2 separate regions of the Homo sapiens genome follow, and region 2 is linked to region 1. Evidence: fine-mapped expression QTL. A gene starts in region 1. The other region holds a variant in brackets. All regions are shown on one strand. Distances are between the middles of the regions. Region 1 holds the start of RPS14 (ribosomal protein S14). Region 2 holds the start of LOC124901106 (a long non-coding RNA gene).

Evidence for each region.
Region 2: its variant is fine-mapped to the expression of RPS14 in whole blood (TOPMed, PIP above 0.99).

Annotation. Positions count from the first base shown.
Region 1 is chr5:150,446,136-150,454,465 of GRCh38, forward strand. It overlaps RPS14 (ribosomal protein S14), which reads right to left and starts at 3,604. Exons shown (of 5, transcript NM_005617.4): 1 at 3,568-3,604; 2 at 1,450-1,600; 3 at 667-828. The coding sequence starts at 1,598. RefSeq lists enhancers at 3,121-4,059, 3,673-3,992 and a silencer at 8,007-8,207.
Region 2 is chr5:150,421,490-150,429,819 of GRCh38, forward strand. LOC124901106 (a long non-coding RNA gene) reads left to right here and starts at 570. Exons shown (of 2, transcript XR_007058994.1): 1 at 570-717; 2 at 1,118-2,856. RefSeq lists enhancers at 6,329-6,830, 6,831-7,330, 7,969-8,018. The variant G/A (reference allele first, on the strand shown) is at 3,845.

The sequences.
Region 1 (8,330 bases):
GAGGGGGCCACTATGGTTTGTTGTTATGTTCTGACCACTGTCTGGCTTGTTCACGCAACAGTCATCTATTTCAGCTTTCATGCCCCCATCACTCAAATCCAGGTCCTTCCCCTCTCCTACAGGACTCCACCTCTTCCCCTCTGACTGCACCTCATGCCACTCTTTCCTTCACAGGTGCCCAGGTTCACCCCCACCTCAAGACCTTTCCCTGCAGTTGTCTCTAGCTGGAATACCCTCCTCCTGTCCTTATTTCACTGGAAGGACTCCGGACTTATCATTTAGACCCTAGTTTAAATTACACTTTATCACCAACTCCTTACTTGTGCTTCCTGGCATTTGTCACAAATGAAAACCACATACTCCCTGGTGCTCTGTTGTTTAAAGTCTGACTCTCCCACCAGCCTCGGTCCCACACAAGGAGGGTAGAGACCATGTCTGTTTCCCCATCACTCTCTTCTAGTACCTGAAACACAGCTCCTAGTATACAGTGGGTGCTCAACACTGAGCTGCTGGGGGGTGTACACAGGAGCCAATTATTAAGTATGTATATGCCTAAAATATCTTGTTCAAGGTCACAACAAAAAACCCAAACCTCAAATCCAGGTGCTCCAGCACCCAAGCCCAGCAGGTTTTCTACCACCCAGCCATCCCCTCTGCGACTCGTACCTATTTCCTCCTGTGGCCCGGAGTTTGATGTGTAGGGCGGTGATACCCAGCTCCTTGCACCTCTGGGCCACATCCTGGGCAGCCAACATAGCAGCATATGGTGAGGATTCATCTCGGTCTGCCTTTACCTTCATCCCACCAGTCACACGGCAGATGGTTTCCCTGGGGACAAAAGCACAGGGTCATTTCTTCCTCGTCCAACAAGGAGTGCTTACGATATCCTAATGAGTGAAGAGCAACACAGCTCAGTCATGGTGGAGGATGATGGTCATGGGCTCTGCCCTCATGGAGTTCAGTCCAGTGGGGTTGAATGGCCCAATATAGCTATACTCAGTATTAACATTTTATATATCTACTTTTGCATTTAATCCTTACCATTACTCCACAAGGTAGACATTACTGTCCTAATTTTACATATGAGGAAACCAAAACTCAGAATCTGAGTGATTTCACACAAGTCACAACTTGCTAAATGGCCGTCGAACCCGCACCCAGAGCCCACTTGCAGTCCACTGCTGCTCCTGCAAAGGGAACTAGGGAAAGAAGATAATTCCCAAGAAACCAAGGATTCAATGACCATCACGCTGTAAGGACGAAGAATGTGTCTCCTCTCTTGTAACCCCTGGGAAATCACAATATTTGTGGGCTAAATGGACAAGCACATTTTCTTACCTGGACAAAACAGCATTTCTTTAGAGAGAATCCCCTGAACTGCTAGCCCGTCCCAGCCATTGCCTTCCTCAGCCTTTTGCCAGCTGGATGCCTCTCCACCCAGGTACTCACTTGCCAGAAAGATCAGTGACATGGACAAAAGTGTCATTGAAGGATGCAAAGATATGGCAGACACCAAATACATTCTCTCCTTCAGCCACCTGAGGTCCGAGGCTGATGACCTGTTCTTCCTTCTTTTCCTTCCCCTTTCGAGGTGCCATTTCTGAGTGGAAGGAAAAGAAACTCAAGGTTAACAGACAAAACATTTCCAGAATCCCTTTCCCCTGGCTATTAAATGAAACCCTAGTCCTGCTTCATGTCCCTGTCTTCTTCCATCCAATACTCTACTGTATTCTCTCATTTCTGCCTCACTAAAACTTCTTTCTCCTTGCACTTGGGGGGGTATCAACTGTGGCCACATGGCAAAGTACCATGAGAAGTATCCTTTCCCCAGAAACTACCAACAGCTCAGCTCACAGCACCTACAAGATAGAAGCCTAGGGATCTAGCAGCAGATGCCTGAAGGCTGCACCCCAAAAGGCAAGAAGAAACCCAAGACCAACAGCTACCCATGTACTGGTACCATTCCTAACACCCTTCATGGGGCGAGGGAGCTGCTTGATTCCTGCATGAACTCCTCAGCTTAGAATTCAAGGGACCCTTACCAACACAGCCCTCAAGCCTCTCATCTCCTGTTTTCCTGTGCTCCACCTGATCCCTTCAAAATGTTCAAAAATGCAACTGATTTGACTCCCACAACTATTTAGAACTAAATCTTTGTCACCAACATCAAATATCAAAGGCACTAAAATATATCCAAAAGGCAGGCTAATGGAAAAGACCCATCTCAGAAATCTGATGGGTCCTGAGACTAAATAACTCTAACCTATTATGACCTTCATAATAATTGCAATCATACTGTCACAAGATCTAAGGGAGAGAGAAACTGACAGGAGGAAGGCGGGTGAGAATGAATGAGAAAGTGGAAGGCTAGGATAAGACTGCTTCCGGCCTAAAGCCCCAGGCCTTCTGAACCTCCTGGTGTTCAGAACAATTTAACATTTTCAGAAGACACTAACACTAATCGATATCCTGCAGATGGTGAAGATAGAGAGTGTCTCAGCCTATGGTCACAGTAAAGACAGTGGCAAAACCAAACATAGAAACAACGTGTCCTGACTCCCAGCCCAGCACTCTCTGCCTCCTGCCAAGATGCCTCTACACCACAAATAACTACCCTAGTCTGTCTCAGGTGTTCCTAGATCTCTCCTCTGCCTTCCCTATATAAACTTTAGTTAAGTGTGTGACCACAGTAAGTACTTCAAGTGTAAGTCTTGGGTGTACGAAGTTAAATGTTCCTATCTTCAAATCAGACCAATGAGCACGACCCAGTGCGTTAACTATTGTAAGGAACGCGCCACAGGAGAGAAGCCCAAAGTTCTGCCTCGAGAAGCATAGAAAGGCTCCAGCATATCTCAAATACGTAAGCATGAGTATGTTTCGGCATGATGGCCATTCAGTAAATGCCAATTTGCAGTTTCTCCGTTCCTAACATCCCCTAAAGTAACGAGCAGAGTGGTCATCAGGAGTATATAAACGCAGGGCAAGCGCACAGCAAACATTGGTGCTGGGCCCTGAGCGCCCAGAACTTGCAACGTGCCCGACTCAGCAACGGAAAGAATCGCCCAGATTTAGAAGCATCCAACATAGTGCGAGAGTTTTCCCTGCTTTCCTTCTTTGAATGATCACTACAAACCCATGGGATCGGTGCTATTGTTATTCCTATTTTGCAAACGAGGAAACAAACGAGATTAGGCGTGGGCCTGCGATCACCAAGAAAAAAGTTTGGCGAGGTAGAGGCGGGAGCCCACGTCTGTCCCGGGTTCCCTCAACTACGCTGTGCAGCTCAAACGCGGCCGTGGCCGTGGCCGTATTGCGGGGCCGAGGCCTTAAAAGGCTGGACCCGCACTCACCCTTACTTCACAAGCTCCTCCCTGAAAGCAAAACGGGCCTTCTGAGACCAGGAACGAACTCAATCCCGAGTTGGCCAGGATCCAGGTGGGCCAGCCGCGCGTCTCTTGCCCGGCACCTAGCTCGGTTCCCACGGAAAGACCCCCGTCTCTCGTCCCAAGCCCCACAGGGTCCCCTCGCCGCAGGATGCCCCCCGATTGTCGCGCCCGGGCCTCCTACCTGCACGTCGTCTCCAGACTCCACACCGGAAAGAGAGAGTGGGAGGGGGCGGAGCGACGGGGGTCACTTCCGTGTCCCGGAAGTATACCTCTGAGGTCACGGGGCGAGGTCGGGTTCCGGAAGACGCCGGCATTATTCCTCCCAAAGAGTTTAAGACTCGTCATAAGGAAAGACGGTTTATTACTTAAGGGAGAGCGAAAAGAGGTAGAGGGCTGGTTGTCGCTGCGAGCGGGTCGGCCTAAGCGACAGTACGAAGCGGCTACACCCGCGGGGTGAGGTGGGCCTGTATTCCATGATGGCGGTGGTCGTGGCTAGACAGACTTCCGCCATCCTGACTCCCGCCCTGGCAGCCTTGGAGCGGCAGCGCCCCTTGTGTGGAGCAGGGGAATAACAACAACAAAACGGCCTTAATTAAAGCTAGGGTGGCGCCGGCCTGTGGTCCCAGTTACTCAGGAGGCTGAGGATCGCTTCGTCCAAGTAGTTCGAGGCCAGCCTAGGCAACATAGTCGGGGAAAACACACCGTAATCACTTACTTTGGCATATTATATAATGGGCAAAATAAGAATAAATTATTCAATATGTATTTTCAGACCGGTCTGGGCTAAACAGTTTATATGCATTGCTTCATTTACTCCTCAAGACATTATCAAATAATTTTGATTTCCCTCTTACAGATAAAGGATGTTAACTGAGAGCACACCTTTGCAGAAGGGTTTGGAATTCTAGCTTCAAAGCCCTCGTGTTTAATAGCTACTTCCACATAGCCCTCTAATAACAATATACATGTATATATTTCGACCGAATCTTGTTCTGTAGCCAAGGCTGGAGTGCAGTGGCGCAATCTCGGCTGACCGCAACCTCTGCCTCCCAGGTTCAAGCTATTCTGCCTCAGCCTCCCAAGTAGCTGGGACTACAGGCGCGTGCCACCACGCCCGACAAATTTTTTGTGTGTGTGTATTAGTAGAGACGGGGTTTTACCGTGTTGACTAGGGTGGTCTGGATTTTCTGACCTCGTGATCCACCTGCCTCGGCCTCCCAAAGTGCTGGGATTACAGGCGTGAGCCACCGTGCCCAGCCTCTAATAACAATATTGAAGGACCTTGAAGGCTTGGGAGAATATGTCGGAGCTGTGGGGAAGGGCCAAGAAGTGTACCTCACAGAGCTAGGCAAGCGGTAGATACATTTTATCTATGTACTATATGTAATATTTATATGGAATATATATAGTATTTTTGTATTACATACTATATAAATATTATAAATATATTTTAAATATATAAATATATCCCGTGGCTCCAGCCTGGGTGACACAGCGAGACCCTGTCTCAAAAAAAAAAAAAATTTATTCTGCTAAACTGAAAAACTCAACATACCTTCTTTTTTTTTTTGAGACGGAGTCTGGCTCTTGTTGCCCAGGCTGGAGTGCAGTGACGCCATCTTGGCTCACTGCAAGCTCCGCCTCCTGGGTTCAAGTGATTCTCCTGCCTCATCTCCCGAGTAGCTGGGATTACAGGTGTGCGCCACCACACCCGGCTAATTTTTGTATTTTTAGTAGAGACGGGGTTTCACCATGTTGTCCAGGCTGGTCTCGAACTCCTGCCTCAGGTGATCCACCCGCCTCGGTCTCCCAAAGGGCTGGCATTATAGGCGTGAGCCAATGCACCCAGCCTCAACATACCTTCTCGTTGCATTGCATTTCTTCGATGATGAGTGACGTCAGACATCTCTTTACGGATTGTTTTAACCATTTGCATCTCTTCTGTGAAATGTCTGTATTTTTTGAAGGAGAGGGCTTTTTTGTTTTAATGAGCTTCCCAGTATGTTAGCAGAGACTGGAGTATTGTGGAGTGAGTTCCGCTTTGATTAAGAGTTGTATTAAACAGACCTCCAAACCTCATGTGGCTTCATGGAGGGAGCAAGCCTTGATCTTATGGCTGAAGGCAGCCCACACAATCACCTCAGGACAAATTTTTCCACAGGGAAGCCTATCTTTATCCCAGAAACCATCAAAGTCACTGCTTTCAAACTCCACTTTATTTAATCAACATATTTATTGTTTCTGCAGTTATTAGCTATGGTTCTTTGGGCAAAAATTGTAACCTCTCTGGGCTTCAGTTTTCTCATCTGTGAAATGGGATGATAATAGCATATTTTTATTTTTATTCATTTTTTTTTTTTTTTTTGAGACAGAGTCTCACTGTTGCCTTCCCCTGCCTCAGCCTCCCTAGTAGCTGGGACTACAGGCACACACCACCACACCCGGGTAGTTTTTTTTTTTTTTTTTTGTATTTTTAGTAGAGACGGGGTTTCACCATGTTGGCCCAGGCTGATTTCGAACTCCTGACCTCAGGTGATCCAGCCCCCGCGGTCTTCCAAAGTGCTGAGATTACAGATGTGAGCCACCGCGCCTGGCCGATAATAGTACATTTTTAAATGTATGTTGAAAACTTCAGGGCTCAGTGGCTCACGCCTATAATTCCAACACTGTGGGAGACTGAGGCAGGAGGATCACTTGAGCTCAGGAGTTGGAGACCAGTCTGGGCAACATGGTGAAACACCTTCTCTACAACAAATAGAAAAATTAACCAGGTATGGTGACCTGCACCTATAATCCCAGCTACTTGGGAGGATCACCTGATCCTGGGAGGTGAAGGCTGCAGTGAGCTGTGATCACACCACTGCACTCCAGCCTGGGCGATAGTGAGACCCAATATATATATTTTTAAAATGTGTAATGAAAACCTGTATCTTTTGTGTTTTGAGACAGAGTCTCACTCTGTCGCCCAGGCTGGAGTGCAGTCGCACGATCTCAGCTCACCACAACCTCCTCCTCCCGGGTTCGAGCAATTCTCCTGCCTCAGCCTCCCAAGTAGTTGGGATTACAGGCGCCCTTCACCACACCTGGCTAATTTTTTGTATTTTTAGTAGAGACGGGGTTTCACCATGTTGTCCAGGCTGATCTTGAACTCCTGACCTCAGGTGATCCACCAGCCTCGGCCTCCCAAAGTGCTAGGATTACAGGCATGAGCCACCGCACCCAGCCAAAAACCTGTACCTTTATTGGACGCTTACTCTTTGTCAGGCACTGAGATACAATCATGGCATTTGAACTGAGACTTGAAAGTAGAGTAGGAATTAGCTACGTGAAGGTGTGAAGAATGGTCTGGGCAGGGAGAATAGAATATGCAAAGGCCCTGAAGTGGGTAGGTGTTTGGAGAACTCAAGGAATTAAAAAATGGCCAGTAGTACTGGGGTGTTGTGAATAAGGGAAGAGGAATGGGGGCTGAGGCTGGAGGGGCAGCACAGCCACTTTCCGTGGGGCCTCACCTCACTGTTGCCATGTCTGCGTTCCCCACCCCACCGCACCCCTGCGCTGTCAACACTGCCAGCACAGGGGTGTACTTACCCTCCCCTCTCAGAGCTCACACACTCACTCAGGGAGCACTCACTGAGCACCTAGGATGTGTCTGACATTGTAAATACTTGGGATACATCAGTGACAAAAACAATGGTCCCTACCCTCTCAAAGTCTACATTCTGGAAGGAAGAGCAGACATAATGTCTATGTAAGCTTCCTATTTTGTTAGAAAGTGGTCAGTCCTGTGGAAAGAAGAAAAAGTTGGCCAGGTGTGGTGGCTCACACCTGTAATCCCAGCACCTTGCATGGCTCAGGTGGGCAGATCACCTGAGGTCAGGAGTTTGAGACCAACCTGGCCAACATGGTGAAACCCCGTCGCTACTAAACATACAAAAATTAGCTGGGGGTGGTGGCAGGTGCCTGTAATCCCAGCTACTTGGGAGGCTGAAGCACGAGAATAGCTTGAACCTGGGAGGCAGAGGTTGCAGTGAGCTGAGACCGCGCTGTTGCACTCCAGCCTGGGCGACAAGAGTGAAACTCCATCTCAAAGAAAAAAAAAGAAGAAGAAGAAGAAAGAAAAAGTCAGGCTGGGCGAAGGGTACTGAAGGTCTGAGGAAAGGGGTGGGGTGGGTGGCTGAATTAAACAGAGAGGGCCAGGCAGCCTTGCTGAGGAGTGATTTGAGCAGAGCTGTGAGGTGGTGAAGGGGTGGCCTGCCCCTCCACACCTGTGGGTGTTTCTCGTCAGGTGGGATGAGAGACTGAGAAAAGAAAGAGACACAGAGACAAAGTATAGAGAAAGAGTGCCAGGGGACTGGCGCTCAGCATATGGAGGGCCCACGATGACACCGGTCTCTGAGTTCCTTCAGTATTTATTGATCATTATCTCTACCATCTTGGAGAGAGGGATGTGGCAGGACAATAGGGTAATAGTGGGGAGAGGGTCAGCAGGAAAACGTGTGAACAAATGTCTCTGTGTCATAAACAAGGTTAAGAAAAAGGTGCTGTGCTTTGATGTGCACATACATAAACATCTCGGTGCATTAAAGAGCAGTATTGCCGCCAGCATGTCTCACCTCCAGCCCTAAGGCGGTTTTCTCCTATCTCAGTAGATGAAATATACAATTGCGTTTTACAACGAGACATTCCATTGCCCAGGGACGAGCAGGAAACAGATGCCTTCCTCTTACCTCAACTGCAAAGAGGCCTTCCTCTTTTACTAATCCTCCTCAGCACAGACCCTTTACGGGTATCAGGCTGGGGGACGGTCAGGTCTTTCCCTTCCCACAAGGCCATATTTCAGACTATCACATGGGGAGAACTTGGACAATATCTGGCTTTCCTAGGCAGAGGTCCCTGCAGCCTTCCGCAGTGTTTTGTGTCCCTGGGTACTTGAGATTAGGGATT
Region 2 (8,330 bases), 25 kb before region 1:
GCTGGTCTTGAACTCCTGACCTCAGGTGATCTGCCCGCCTCAGCCTCCCAATGTGCTGGGATTACAGGCGTGAGCTACTGCACCCGGCCTGATTCTTTAGACTATGTGAATTTACAACTTCAATACAAGGTAAAACTAAATTTATAGTTTTTTTTGTTTTGGGGTGTGTGTGTGTGTGTGTGTGTGTGTGTGTGTGTGTGACGGAGTCTCACTGTGTCACCAGGCTGGAGTGCAGTGGCGTGATCTCAGCTCCCTGCAACCTCTGCCTCCTGAGTTCAAGCGATTCTCTTGCCTCAGCCTCCTGAGTAGGTGGGATTACAGGTGCCTACCACCATGCCCGGCTAATTTTTGTATTTTCATAGAGACGGGGTTTCACGATGTTGGTCAGGCTGGTCTCCAACTCCTGACCTCAAATGACCTGCCCACCTCGGCCTCTCAAAGTGCTGCGATTATAGGCGTGAGCCACCGCGCCCAGCCTAAATTTAAAATAAAGGGAATAATGCATCACAGTCACTAGATTCTAAACCAATGGTGATAGAATGGCAGTCCGAACTCTTTTCTCTGTGCAGCAGTTTCAGGACACAGCTGAGGGAAATCCCACGGTCATCCTGCCCGTGCCCTTGGAGGTTAGAGACTGATGCCAGCCAAGAGGGAGGGTCCCAAGACTGAGTTTCCCAGAGGGCGTGGACAATGGCTCCCTGCATCTTTCCTTACAGGGTAAGAAGTCCCAGTTTCTCACTTGTCACACAGGCTCCACCGCCCAGGGAAGGAGCCTTGTCCCACCTACCCCTGACCACAGGAGGAGGGAGACAGAGTAACAGGAAGCAGTGGAGCTTGGATGCCACACCCTGATGGGGAGATGGAGTAAGGTGGAACCCAGCTCCACAGAGTTTCATACAGAGAAAGTATGACTTAGAGAGGGGAAAGGAACTGGCCCAAGGTCACACAGCAAGGTCCCCAGAACTGGAACTGTTCTGCAGTTTGCATGAGTGTGAAAAACAAAAGAACTTGAGGCAGACTGCCTGGGGCCACATCCCAGCTTCCAAATGGCTGGTTTCAGGGCTGGAGATGGGGGAATGCAGGTGATGCTGAGACATCTCTGTTTTTTTCTTTCCAGAAAGCCAAGAAGTTCTCAAAGACTCCTGGGGCTTGAAAGAAGGACCCAGGAGCCAACTTGAAGGGGCACCGCCAGCCAGATACGGAACAATGCCAGCCTCAATAAGAATAATTTGGCCAGGCCTGGTGGTTCATACCTGTAATTCCAGCACTTCAGGAGGCTGAGGCGAGAGGATTGCTTGAGCCCAGGAGTTCAAGACCAGCCTGGGCAACATAAGAACCCTGTCTCTACAAAAAATTTAAAAATTAGCAAAAGCGTGGTGGTGTACACATGTAGTGCCAGCTACTTGGGAGGTTAAGGTGGGAGGATGGCTTGAGCCCAGGAGGTTGAGGCTGCAGTGAGCTGTGATTGCATCATCACACTCCAGACTAGGCAACCGAGCAAGAGACCCTATCTCAAAATAATAATAATAATAGTAATAATAATTTGTCCTGCCTCTTTAGAAGGAGCTGTAGTTCAATCCCAGTTGATGAGAAAAAAACTCTTCTTTACAGAAGAGTGCAAGCTTCTTGCATTTCTGCAGAAGAAAAGACAGAAATAGAAAATCATCTTGTTGTAACCCTTCGTAAAATAATTGATCAATAATTGATCGTATAATAATTGACAGGATTATCCAGGGAGTCAGAACCCTGGGATGAAAGGCTGGGGGAGGACAGAACAGTCACATGCCAAAGAGTCCACCTGAAGCCTCTTGCTGGTTGCCAAAGGGGAGAGGTGTTTTACAGTAGTAAAAAATGGTGCAGTCTTGCTGTCACCACCTCAGACAAGTGATCAAATTTAGCATCATCAATAGTGGAACAATCTGACATGTGTCTCTGGATGGGATATAATAATAATAATACTCAGCATGAGCTGGGCAGTATCTTTACTAAAGATTGTTAACCTGAATCTGCCTTTTTTTTTTTTTTCTGAGACAGAGTCTCACTCTGTCACCCAGGCTGAAGTGCAGTGGGGTAATCTTGGCTTACTGCAACCTCCTTGCCTCCCTGGCTCAAGCAATCCTCCCACCTCAGCCTCCCAAGTAGCTGGGAGCACAGGCATGCAGAGCCACACCTGGCTTTTTTTTTGGGGGGGTGGTGGGTATTTTTAATAGAGACAGGGTCTCGCCATGTTGCCCGGGCTGGTCTCAAACTGTTGACCTCATGATCCTACCACCTTGACCTCCCAAAGTTCTGGGATTGCCGACGTGAGCCACAACGCCCAGCCTGAATCTGGCTTTGGACCTAAACTCCAGTTTAGAGTCAATACAGGGGGTAGAAGAACAAGTTAAATAACACCATGAAGAAACAATCAGATATATCCAGGGACAGCCTATAAGATAACACCTGCTGCCAGGCACGGCGGCTCACGCCTGTAATCCTAGCACTTTGGGAGGCCGAGGTGGGCGGATTGCCTGAGCTCAGGAGTTCGAGACCAGCCTGGGCAACACAGTGAAACCCCGTCCCTACTAAAATACAAAAAATTAGCCGGGCATGGCAGTGTGCACCTGTAGTCCCAGCTACTCAGGAGACTGAGGCAGGAGAGTTGCTTGAACCCGAGAGGTGAGGTTGCAGTGAGCCGAGATCGCGCCACTGCACTCCAGCCTCGGTGACAGAGCGAGACTCCGTCTCCAAAAAAAAAAGATAACACCTGCATTCTCCAAAGAATCAATGTCACAAAAAAAGGTGTATGTGTGTAGATACATGGGGATCTGTATTTTAAAGGATTTAAAAAACAATAAACCAAATGCAATTTGTAAATCTTTGTAAGATGTACGATTTGAAAAAAACAAGTATAAAAGATTTTTTTTTTTTTTTTGAGACGGAGTCTGGCTCTGTCGCCCAGGCTGGAGTGCAGTGGCGCAATCTCAGCTCACTGCAAGCTCCGCCTCCCAGGTTCACGCCATTCTCCTGCCTCAGCCTCCCGAGCAGCTGGGACTACAGGCGCCCGCCACTACGCCCGGCTAATTTTTGTATTTTTAGTAGACACAGGGTTTCACCGTGTTAGCCAGGATGGTCTCGATCTCCTGACCTCATGATCCGCCCGCCTCGGCCTCCCAAAGTGCTGGGACTACAGGCTTGAGCCGCCGCGCCCGGCCGTAAAGATTTTTTTAAAAGCAGGGAAATTTGAATATCAGATGGACATTTGGAAATTGTTATTGATCTTCTTAGGTATGATAATGAAGTTTTAGTCTGGTAGGAGAATTTTTTTAGGAGATGAGGCTGAAGTACTTGGAGGTAACATGACATGATGTTTGAACTTATTTTCACATTGTTTAGAGAAGAGAGAGAGAGTGGCCGGGTGTGGTGGCTCATACCTGTAATTTCAACACTTTCGGAAGCTGAGGTGGGAGGATTGCTTGGGAAGGCAGCTTGAGGCCAGGAGTTTAAGACTAGTCTAGGCAATATAGAGAGACCTTGCCTCTTAAATTTTTTTTTTTAATTAGCCAGGCATAGTAGTGCGTGCCTGTAGTCCTAGCTACTCAGGAGGCTGAGGCAGGAGGATCGCTGGAGCCCAGGAGTTCGAGGTTGCAGTGAGCTGTGTTCATGCCATGGCACTCCAGCCTGGGTGACAGAGCAAAACTCTCTCTCAAAAATAGAAATAAAGGCCAGATGCAGTGGCTCACATTTGTAATCCCAGCACATGGGGAGCCCAAGGCAGAAGGATTGCTTGAGCCTAGGAGTTCAAGACCAGCCTGGGCAACATAGTGAGACTCCATCTCCACAAAATTTTTTTTTTATTATCTAG[G/A]CCTGGTGGCAAACAACTGTAGTCCCAGCTACTCAAGAGGCTGAGATGGGAGGATGGCTTGAGCCCAGGAGATGGAGGCTGCAGTGAGCCGTGATCACACTACTGCACTCCAGCCTGGGTAACAGAGACCCTGTTTCAAAAAACTAAAAATAAAGACCTAGGCATGGTGGTTCATGCTGTAATTCTAGCACTTTGGGAGATCAAGGCAGGCAGATCACTTGAGCTCAGGAGCTTGAGACCAGCCTGCGCCACATGGTGAAACATCATCTCTACAAAAAATAAGCCAGATGTGGTAGCACGTGCCTGTAGTCCCAGCTCCTTGGGGAACTGAGGCAGAAGAATTGCTTGATCCCAGGAAGTCAAGGCTGCAGTGAGCCAAGATCATGCCACTGCACTCCAGCCTGGGTGACAAAGTGAGACCGTGTCTCAAAAAATAATAATAAATAAAATTAAAAGTAAGAGGTCAGACACAGTGGCTCACATCTGTAGTTACAACCCTTTGGAAGGCTAAGATGGGAGGATCCCTTGAGCCTAGGAGTTCAAGACAAGCCTGGGCAACATGGAAAGACCCCATCTCTACAAAAAATGTTAAAAAAAAAAAAAAAAAAAGAAAGAAAAAAGAAAAAATGAAAATAAAAAATTCACCGGGCATGGTGGCATGTACCTGTGGTCCCAGCTACTTGGGAGGCTGAGGTGGGAGGATCACTTAGCCCAGGAGATTGAGGCTGCAGTGAGCTGTGTTGTGCCACTGCATTTCATTCAGCCTTGGTGACAGGAGAAGACCCTGTCTCCAAAAAAAAAAATAAAACAAAATAATAAAATAAAACACAGAGAGAGAAGTGAAATTGATAGTAGTTGAAGCTAAGTGGTGGGTATCTGATCAATTTTTCTGTATGTTAAATTTTTTCTTAATAAATGGTTAGAAAAAATTTTAAGTCAATTATGTACAAACTCAGTTTCCTTTGTACAGGAATTGTCCTCACTGCCAAGAAGACATTGTTCATTCCCATTGTGGTTATATTGACAACTGGGGGACAATGGGCTCTTTTACAGCATAGGCACATAATGTGTGTGTGGTTTTTTTTTTTTGAGAGAGAGTTTCGCTCTTGTTGCCCAGGCTGGAGTGCAATGGCGCGATCTCGGCTCGCCGCAACCTCTGCCTCCTGGGTTCAAGCGATTCTCCTGCCTCAGCCTCCCAGCCTGTAGCTGGGATTACAGGCATGCGCCGCCCCCGCCCAGCTAATTTTGTATTTTTAGTAGAGATGGGTTTCTCCATGTTGGTCAGGCTGGTCTTGAACTCCTGACCTCAGGTGATCTGCCCATCTCAGCCTCCCAACATGCTGGGATTACATTATGGTCCCCCATGCCTGGCCCATAATGTGTGTTTTAATCCTCATCAAAATGTCTCAGTACTTTATGAGAAGTTTTCTATTTTGTTTTTCAGTTTTGTGTTTTTTTGTTTTGTTTTGTTTTGTTTTTGTTTTGTTTTATGGAGTCTTGCTCTGTCACCCAGGCTGGAGTGCAGTGGCGTGATCTTGGCTCACTGCAACCTCCGCCTCCCGGGTTCAAGTGATTCTATTGCCTCAGCCTCCCAAGTATCTGGGATTATAGGTGCCCACCACCATGCCTGGATAATTTTTTTTTTTCCATAGAGATGGAGTTTCACCATGTTGGCCAGGCTGGTCTTGAACTCTTGACCTCAAGTGATCCGCCCACCTCAGCCTCCCAAAGTGCTGGGATTACAGACATGAGACTCTGCCAGTTTTCTATTTTCATAGGAAAAAAATTCTAAGTCAAACCACTTACCAGATGTATGATTTTTAGCAAGTTACTTAAATCCTTTGTGCCTCAGTTTCCTCACCTGTAAAATGGGCATGCTAATAGAACCCATCTCATTGGGTTGCGAAAGGATTGAGTGAAGTAATACACACATGGCTGGCATAGAGACAGCGTGCAATACATGTCAGAGAGTTCAGCAATATGTTCTTTTCCATAAACCTGTTCATTCTGAATCTGGGACCCTGTGCATGTTCAGAGATTTGGAGCTGCTCAACAGAGCCAGAGGGAGCCTCATCCTCCCTCTCTGGACTTTCCTGGGGGTCTCATCTCGGGAGTCTCATCCCTGGTGTCACCCCTGAGCTAGTCTGAGTGACTCTCTAAGATGCCTGCCCTCTTTTGGTCTGGACACTCCAGGCCCCAGAGGTGTGAGTTCCTACCAGTTCACCCTGGGTGAGCCGGGCAGGTGGAGTCTCCTGAGACCTCCCCTTCCCCATTCTCCTTCTTGGTCCCTGAGTCCCTGATGAGCTGCCTCAAGAAGCAGGCAGGCAGTGTGCACCCAGCCCTGCCCACCAGCCCACATGGCCCAGCCCACCCATCTTGTGTGGGGCCTCTTGGACCCCAGTACACCTTGGCCACGAATAAGGGGCTGGAAAGGGGGCTGTTTGTGTGGAGGGAGCAGGCCTGGGCTCTAGTCCTATACCTTCCATATGTGCCCCAGGCAAGTATACATCATCCCTTCTCTCACTTGTTCAGCAGTTATTTATTGAATACTTTATGCCAGGCACTGTTCTAGGAGCTTGGGATACATGGATGAACAAGGCAGACAAGTATCCCCATCCGTATGGAGTTTACATTCCAGGGGCAGGAGACAGGTCAGTAAATTATACTTTTGTTAGAGAGTGGTAAGTGCTATGGAGGAAAGGAAAGTTGTTTCTGGAGATGCAGGGTTGGGGGCAGGTTGTAGTCTTTGATAGGGTGTTGGGATGGGCCTCATTGACAAGGTGAGATTTGAGCATAGGCCTGAAGGAGGGGAGGAAGTTCACCAAGCCCACAACCGGGCAGAAATCACAGCCAGAGCAGAGGTCCCATGGTGGGAATGTGTCCGGCCTGGTTGACGAACCACAAGGAGGCCAGCATTGCTGGGGTGGAGCGACTGAGAGGAAAAGGGAGAGGGAGGGACAGACGGGAGGTCACGAGGTGTGCAGCCAGATCCTGCAGCCACCCACTGGACTTTGGCTTTATGCCGAGTGAAGCCGGGAGCCGTGGGAAGGCTCTGAGCAGAGGAGTCGCCTCCTGACTCTTGCTGTGAAAGGGTGGCTAGGGCTGCTGCGTGGGGGATCTGTACAAGATGGGCAGATCATCCCCGTGCCTCATGGGCTGCTGTGAAGGTCACGGGGGGACACTGGACAAGGAAATGCTTAGAAACAAAAGGCCCTGACTGTGGTTACAGGGCTTCCAGGAGAGAGAGCTGAGTGGCTCTGCTCACAACCGTCTTATTGAAGGGTCAGTGGAGCTCAGGAGAGGGTTATAATTTGCCCAGGGTCATATGTTCTACAACCAATTCAAGATCGGGGACTTCCCACTCTTCTCCCAGGGCAAATACCATCTGGCAGGTGGCTAAGTAGTGCAGCCTTTGGACCTGTGATGGCTGTAGTGCGGCTGACGGGGACTGAGTCCTCCCTTGAAAATCCATTCACTCCACAAATATTTGTTAAGTGCCGGTTATGGGCCAGGCACTGATCTGGACTAGAAGCTGGGACCTAGAGATATTGGGAGACACCTGGCAAGGGCTAAGTCCTGGTCTCTGGTGGGGCTGGTTTCTGGTGGGGCTGGTCTCTGGTGGGGTTGGTCTGTCTCTGGTGGGTTTGGTCTGTCTCTGGTGGGGTTGGTCTCGTCTGGTGGGGTTTGGTCTCTGGTGGGGCTGGTCTCTGGTGTGGTTGGTCTCTGGTGGGGTTGGTCTGTCTCTGGTGGGGTTGGTCTGTCTCTGGTGGGGTTGGTCTCTGGTGGGGTTTGGTCTCTGGTGGGGTTGGTCTGTCTCGGGGCTGGTCTCTGGTGGGGTTGGGCTCTGGTGGGGTTGGGCTCTGCTGGCGCTGGTCTCTGGTGCGGTTGGTCTGTCTCTAGTGCGGTTGGTCTGTCTTTGGTGGGGTTTGGTCTCTGGTGGGGTTGGTCTCTAGTGGGGTTGGTCTCTGGTGGGGTTGGGCTCTGGTGGGGTTGGTCTCTGGTAGGGCTGGTCTCTGGTGGGGTTGGTCTGTCTCTGGTGGGGTTGGTCTCTGGTGGGGTTTGGTCTCTGGTGGGGCTGGTCTCTGGTGGGGTTGGTCTCTGGTGGGGTTGATCTCTGGAGGAGTTGGTCTCTGGTGGGGCTCAGTCGGTCTGTGCAGGAGTCAAGTGTTAGAGGCCACACTACTGAAGGCTGGTGTTGGACTTAGGGTCAAGAGTCCATCTGGGGCTGGGGTCAGGTCACAGCTGGAGTCAGGCAGCCCAGTCAAGAGGCTGTGGAAAGTCAAGCTGGAGAGGCAAGGCCTGCTGGGGGCTGTGGAGGTCAGGAGAAGGCCACACACCACGGGCCAGACTGTGTATGGTAGGGGTGGGACCAAGGTGCCACTGAGCTTTTACGTTTAGGTGGCAAAGAAGATGATGTCATTCATAAAAGCAGGAAGGCATTAGTTCATTTGAGGAACAGAAAGAGTGCAGTGCATCTGATGAGCGG